Linked DNA regions of Homo sapiens. The protein of the gene in region 2 purifies or fractionates together with the protein of the main gene of each other region. This does not show direct contact. Each region holds a gene or a part of one and is shown on either strand. Other genes may lie near its edges.

The links. The genes of interacting proteins can lie anywhere in the genome.
Region 1: the proteins of NLRC4 (region 2) and NOD2 purify together in Homo sapiens (affinity purification with western blotting, with the first as the bait; 2 studies listed by BioGRID). This does not show direct contact.

What each region holds. Positions count from the first base shown.
Region 1 is NC_000016.10:50,728,106-50,731,605, reverse strand, and holds part of NOD2 (nucleotide-binding oligomerization domain-containing protein 2), read right to left. Parts: exon of another isoform or gene 3,156-3,500; intron 2,594-3,155; exon of another isoform or gene 2,456-2,593; intron 1,789-2,455; coding exon 1,705-1,788; exon of another isoform or gene 1,653-1,704; intron 1-1,652. UniProt on the Homo sapiens protein: Pattern recognition receptor (PRR) that detects bacterial peptidoglycan fragments and other danger signals and plays an important role in gastrointestinal immunity.
Region 2 is NC_000002.12:32,233,887-32,237,386, forward strand, and holds part of NLRC4 (NLR family CARD domain-containing protein 4), read right to left. Parts: intron 2,454-3,500; coding exon 2,361-2,453; intron 1,683-2,360; coding exon 1,515-1,682; intron 1-1,514.

The DNA.
Region 1 (3,500 bases), on a different chromosome or scaffold from region 2:
AGGGCTGTTTTTACCCTTGGCCAACCAGGGCAGCTCAGGAAGCATTCTGAACAAGGCTCCATGACTCTGCAGAGAGAGTCCACAACACTGCACCCAGCCAGCCACAGACTCCCCAAGGCCAGTGATTCTTTTTAAGGCAATAAGAGAATCTGTCAAGAATGCAATGAGCAAACCCTGGTGCCCTCCCAAGTTCCATCAACAGGCAGCAAATAACATCAGACCCCTTAAAATATCAACCTCATGTTGGCTGGTGCCCAGGACCCAGAATGTGATGTTTCTTAGGACTGTGCAATGGTTTCAAAAACAAAGAAACAGAAAACCTACACTTTGCCCAGAACCTGATGACGTCATAGGCCACAGAGCTATCACAATCATACAGAAGGAAAAATCTCTCCATCACAGCATAGATTTTTGAAGTCACTTTTAAATTTTTTATTTTTTTAAGAGATGGGATCTAATTCTGTCGCCTGTGCAGTGATGCAATCATGGCCCACTGCAGCCTTGAACTCCTGGGTTCAAGGGATCCTTCCATCCCAGCCTCCCAAGTGGCTAGGAACTACACCGCACCCAGCTGAATTTTTTATTTTTTGAGAGACAAGGTCTGGTGTTGAACCTCTGGCCTAAAGTGATCCTCCTGCCTCAGCCTCCCAAAGTGCTAGGATTACAGGTGTGAGCTGCCACGCCCAGCAAAGCTTTTGTTTTTAACTTCATCATTTGATATCTGCATTCGCTGCAGCCTTGATGTGCTTTTTGAGAGAAGACAAGGCCTGCATATTTAAAGCAAGGGTCACAGGCTTATGGGAATGAGTTGCCAAAGGGTCCTGGTCTAAGACAATAGGCTTGGTGGATCTGCAGTCAGCCAGAGTGGGTTTGCCCATCTGAGAAGACTCAGCCCTTCTTGTACTCTGGTTAACTACTGGAATCATGAATGGGCATCCAGAGTTCCCAGCTCTTTTGAGAAAACCCTGAGATATAGATTTTCTATAGGAAATTTCCTGGCTTTTAAATATTAGTCTCTAGCCCAGTGCCTGGAACATATATAGTAGCATTCACTTACAGCACATTAGGCCAGGGAAAGCCTTTACTTATTGTCTGAGAAATAGATCCCTGGAAACAAGAAGGACAAATCTTTGAAGCTGTGGCTCAGCAGAGAGAAAGTCTACAACACTGGACCCAGCTGCCCAGACTCCCAAGGCTAGTCATTCTTTTTAAGGCAATGAAAGAATCTGTCAAGAATGCAATTCTTGCTTTTTTCAATACATGAAAGTCTATGGCTTTAATTATAGAGAATTGGAAACACTGTGCAACCTGCTCCTAACCTGTGTAATCTCCATTCAGAACCGCAGAAGGTCTGATCCAATATCCTTGACCTGTGAAGGCAGATGCAATTTCTAGGAGGGCGGGAGCTGACTTTTCTTTTCATTCTTCAACCACATCCCCATTCCTACACTATCTCATAGAGCAGAGAAGTTGCTGAATAAATAGTCAAGGTTTAAAAATGAAATCATTGCTCCCTACTTAAAGAGGTAAAGACTTCTTTCTTAGACAGAGAATCAGATCCTTCACATGCAGAATCATTCTCACTGAATGTCAGAATCAGAAGGGATCCTCAAAATTCTGCCATTCCTCTCTCCCGTCACCCCATTTTACAGATAGAAAAACTGAGGTTCGGAGAGCTAAAACAGGCCTGCCCAGGGGCCTTACCAGACTTCCAGGATGGTGTCATTCCTTTCAAGGGCCTGCAGGAGGGCTTCTGCCCCTAGGTAGGTGATGCAGTTATTGGACAACCTGGAAAAGAAGATACAATGGTGAGCTTCAAGGATTCTTGGTTTTCCTCTTGAAACTGTCCAGTTAAAGAGACTGCAGGAGTTAGCCAGTCTACTGAAGCCCACCTGTCCCTTAGACACATCCTGCTCATGTCTGAGATTCCCAATGAGCTCATCAACAAAGGCTCAGTACCATCAGTGAAATGTAACCGTCTCTCTTCCATTCACTAGATGAGTTTATCAAATTAAGTAGCCACTCCCTTAGGATAGTGGTTAAGTACCTGCATTTTAGTGCTAGACATCCTGGGTTTAAATCCCACCTACACCACTTCTTTTTTGATCTCGAGCAAATTAGTCCCAATCTCCTCATTGGTAAAATGGGCCTAAAAGAGTACCCGTGCCATCGAGCATAAGAATCTAAATTGTGATGGGTGTAAGCAGGCTCCTATTCACATCCACCATCCATCTCCTTGTGGCATGGGTCCTGGGCCATTAAGTCAGCCACCAGTCCCCCATTACCTCCCCACACTCTGCTTGCTGGGAAGACCCACCACTCTCTGCATGCCTAAAACACTTGCACAGTACTTGATATGGTTTGGCTGTGTCCCCACCCAAATCTCTTGAATTCCCACGTGTTGTGGGAGCGACCCAGTGGAAGGTAATTGAATCCCATCCTGTTCTCATTACAGTAAATAAGTTTCATGATATCTGATGGTTTTAAAAAGGGGAGTTTCCCTGAACAAGCCCTCTTCTCCTGTCTGCTGCCATGTGAGATGTGCCTTTCACCTTCAGCCATGATTGTGAGACCTCCCCAGCCACGTGGAACTGTAAGTTCAATAAAACTCTTTCTTTCATAAAGTGCCCAGTCTTGGGTATATCTTTATCATCAGCATGAAAACGGACTAATACAGTACTTAATTGATAGAAAATAACCAATGAGCAGTAATATTTCTATTTTCAGGGGGGTCTTTGAGGGCACAGAGACAGAGATTAGAGAACATATGAGGTAGCTGACAACAGGGAGGGGAGACAGGATAGGGCCAGGGACAGCAACAGAGGAGTCATGTGTTTCCCAGGTTGCTCTTTTGGTTACAGCTTTGCCTTCCAATAATGTCCACTCCAGGTCCTCCCCCTTTCCCACAATTTCAGGAATGTCTTACAAGTTGACCCTAAGGCAATGCCAATTGTAATTGCCAGTATTTATTGAACTTCTATTAGATTGGTGCAAAAGTAATTGCAGTTTTTGCATTGTTGAAATTTGCCATTTGATATTGGAATACATTCTTAAATAAATGTGGTTATGCTATACATCATTTTAATGCACAATTCTCACTTTATGATTTTTTGCTAATGACTTAATACTTTCTGTTTATTTTATATTTATTTTAGACTATGAAAATGATGTTAGACAAAAAGCAAATTCAAGCAATTTTCTTATTTGAATTCAAAATGGGTTGTAAAGCAGCGGAGACAACTCACAACATCAGCAATGCATTTGGCCCAGGAACTGCTAACTAACGTATAGTGCAGTGGTGGTTCAAGAAGTTTTGCGAAGGAGATAAGAGCCTTGAAGATGAGGAGTGTACTGGCAGGCCATCAGAAGCTGACAATGACCAATTGAGAGCAATCATCAAAGCTGATTTTCTTACAACTACTTGAGAACTCAACATCGACCATTCCATGGTCATTCAGCATTTGAAGCAAATTGGAAAGGTGAAAAACCTCGATAAGTGT
Region 2 (3,500 bases):
CTCCAGCTATTGTTGTATTGGGTTCTATCTCTCTCTTTAGCTCTAACAATATTTGCTTTATATATCTAGGTTCTCCAGTGTTGGGGACATATATATGTGTGTGTATATATGGGAAGATGAAGAAGCTCTGGAGATGGATGTTGTGATAGTGGCACAATAATATGAATGTACTTAATGCCACAAAGCTTTTACACTTAAAAACAGTTTAAATAGGGCCGGGTGCGGTGGCTCAAGCCTTTAATCCCAGCACTTTGGGAGGCCAGGGCAGGCGGATCACGAGGTCAAGAGTTCAAGACCATTCTGGCTAACACGGTGAAACTCCATCTCTACTAAAAATACAAAAAAAAAAATTAGGCGTGGTGGCTGGCGCCTGTGGTCCCAGCTCCTCGGGAGGCTGAGGCAGGAGAATGGCATGAACTAGGGAGGTGGAGTGTGCAGTGAGCTAAGATTGCGCAACTGCACTCCAGCCTGGGCGACAGAGCAAGACTCTGTCTAAAAAAAAAACAAAAAACAAAGAACAAAAACAGTTTAATAAATTGTACGTTACGTAAACTAAACACATTTTAGACAATCTGTAAGAGAAATGAAGGCAATCGAGGCTGTTTTCACAAGTCCTTGGCTTTAGTATGATAGCTTCCAAGTTGAACCTGATGAGCCTGACCTCCTTGTATTAATGTTTCCATACGCTGGATTGGAATAACTTGTGCAACCAGTGGGATATGTCAGAAGTGACCAGAAATGAGTGGGCTGCCATGTTGTGAGGACACTCACAGCCTGTGAAGAGGTCTAATGATGAGGAAGTGAGGCCTCCAGCCAACAGCCAGTGTTAACTTGCCAACCATGTGAGAAGCTACCTTGGAAGGAGATCCTCCAGCAGCCCCTCTCATGAGAGAGGTCAAGCCAGAGCTAACCTGCTAAACTCCTAAATTCCTGAACCACAGAAACTGTGAGATAATGGTTATTGTTTTAAGCCATTATGTTTTGAGGCCATATGTTATACAGGAATTGAAAACTAATACAGATAGTATGAAGGCTTCTTTCATCAACTGCCTGAGGTTGGTGGTGTCTTCAGTCATTTATATAGATCTATTTGTTTCTGGATAATATTACAGCTATTTAAAGATATTTTGTGGCTCTATTTAGATACAGCTACATTCGCCTTTATATGTTTTGAATACCCAGTAAGTAACTTGAAAATATTTCCTGATATTGGAGGGAGGGGCATTGCTGAATTTCAGAAAGTTAAGGCTAGTAAGAGCTATGACTAATATAATACATCTTGTTGGATACTGTGAATGCTTTTCATTTAATTCTGTAGGTAAAGGAAATAGAATCTGAAGGAAGGCCAGTGTTTTAAGTCTTCTTACTCTAACGTGAATGAATTCATTAGACATATTTATATTTTAAAAAAAAGAGGAAGCAAAATAAAATAAGGGGGCAAAATAAGCAAAGCCAACTTAAGAATTTTTTAAGGGCCAAATCCAGTTATCTTGGCTCTGTATGTGTGTACCTACCTAAAATTCTAATCTCTGTATCTGTGAGTCTCCAGTTTTTCAACCCAAGCTTGACGAGTTGTGGGACCTCCTCCAAATGTTTCAACAGGCTGCTCAGGCTGCCTTGCACGTCACAGCCCCAGGGCAGCATCAGTGCGGTGAGCTGTTCTAGCACGTTCATCCTGTCGACTGGAAGAAACAAAGAGCAGTTCAGGGACTGGATGGTCTCAAAACTGAGGAAGAACAAAGGGGTGTTAGGGGAGGAATGATCTTTATGTTTGGTGGCTCTGCAGCCTACTCAATCTGTAATGAGAATCTACTTAATTTTTGGTTTTTTTTTGGAAAGTATTCAAGCATATACAAACATTATGCAGAAGAATATAATGAAACTATATATACTAATAAGACACCTTCAAAAACATTAAATCATGGGCAATCTTGCTTAATCCTGACCTAATTCCTCCTGTATTATTCTAAAGCAAATCATGGACAATATGAATCAGTTCTTTCCTTTTTTTTCTTTTAACCATAATCACATATCACTATCACACCTAAAAAATCATATCACCAATTCCTTAAGCAAATTTGTCTTGCACATCGGCTACTCTTGACAGTTGCCTCTTCAAAGGAGGAAAGCAGGTGGGATACCGCCTCAAAGTGCAGTGAGCATATGTAAACTGGTGACTTAAAAGACATGGGCCTGTGTTCCTTAAGGGCAGTTTAAGAAAGGCCTAAATGATTTTCCTAAGGAGGGTGCATCTAGTAAGGCACACATGGGTATAAAAGACCTCAGGACCCAGGCTATGTATTTCGACTACCCAGTATACATATTCAAGTATCTAATTTTGGCTGAATTGTCATTCTTACTCAGTTCATGAAGAGCTTCATTTCCATCTTTTTCCAGGTAATTTTCTGATAAATCAAGAATGCTCAGTTTGACCAAATTGTGAAGATTCTGAGCTGGGGAAAAAAAGTAATCCAAAATAAAAAGATTTTCAGGTAAATATAAATGTATTTTGAAGTATCCTTAGAATAATTCTGAGTTTTATCTTCTCTGCTAATGGTAGTGCAAACCATAACTTGCCTTGGTTATTTTAATTATTTCCAAAGGCTCTGGTGTAGGTGTAACCCCCAAATCCCATGGTTATGACCAAATGGGCAAATAGTCATTGGTCCTAGGTTCTGATTAATGAATTCCAGGTCACGTAGAACCTAAAGCAGCATGGGATGTAGTTGTTATGTCATCATGGAAAAATCACTTGGTCTCTCTAAGCCTCAATGTCTTCCTCTATAGAATGAGGTAGTTGGACCAGATAAAATGTAAAGTTGCTTCAATTATAAAATGCCGTTAATCATGCAGGAGAAACAGGAACAACAACAACAACAAAAATGAAATGAGCTGGTTTTGTGTACCTCAACTTAGATGATTTTATTGACATAATAGTTGAGATATTAATAATAAAAACATAGTAAAAAATGGATGAGAAAAAAAACAAATAGCAAAATGGCAGATTCAAATTTATCCATATCAACAATTACATTAAATCTTAATGGACTAAACACTCCAATTAAAAGGCAGAGATAATCAGATATTCAGAACTTTTTTTAAAGCAAGACCCAGTTTTATGCTGTGTACAAAAGACGTGTTTGAATGACAAAGACACAAATATGTTGAGGTAATGGAAAACTATTTTGCATGCAAACATTAATTATATAATAGTACCAGTCTAGCTAAGAATTGCTTAGTGCTTTTCTTCACATATTATCACTCTTGCTTAATCTAGCTGAAGTTTTTTCTGTCAGGGCTAGAAAAATCTCCTTTTTAAAAAAATCAGACAAGTTTTTCATGAATATGTACTCTTGTTATAATATTGGCTATTATTATTTTTAATCAATCATATGAGCCCTTTTCTTAAAGTATCTTCTGGGTTTTGTGCTCTACAATAAAAAACCTGCTGAACTTCTCTTTAAAAGAGTACGTTTGCTATTTGCAGTTCTAAGCCTGTC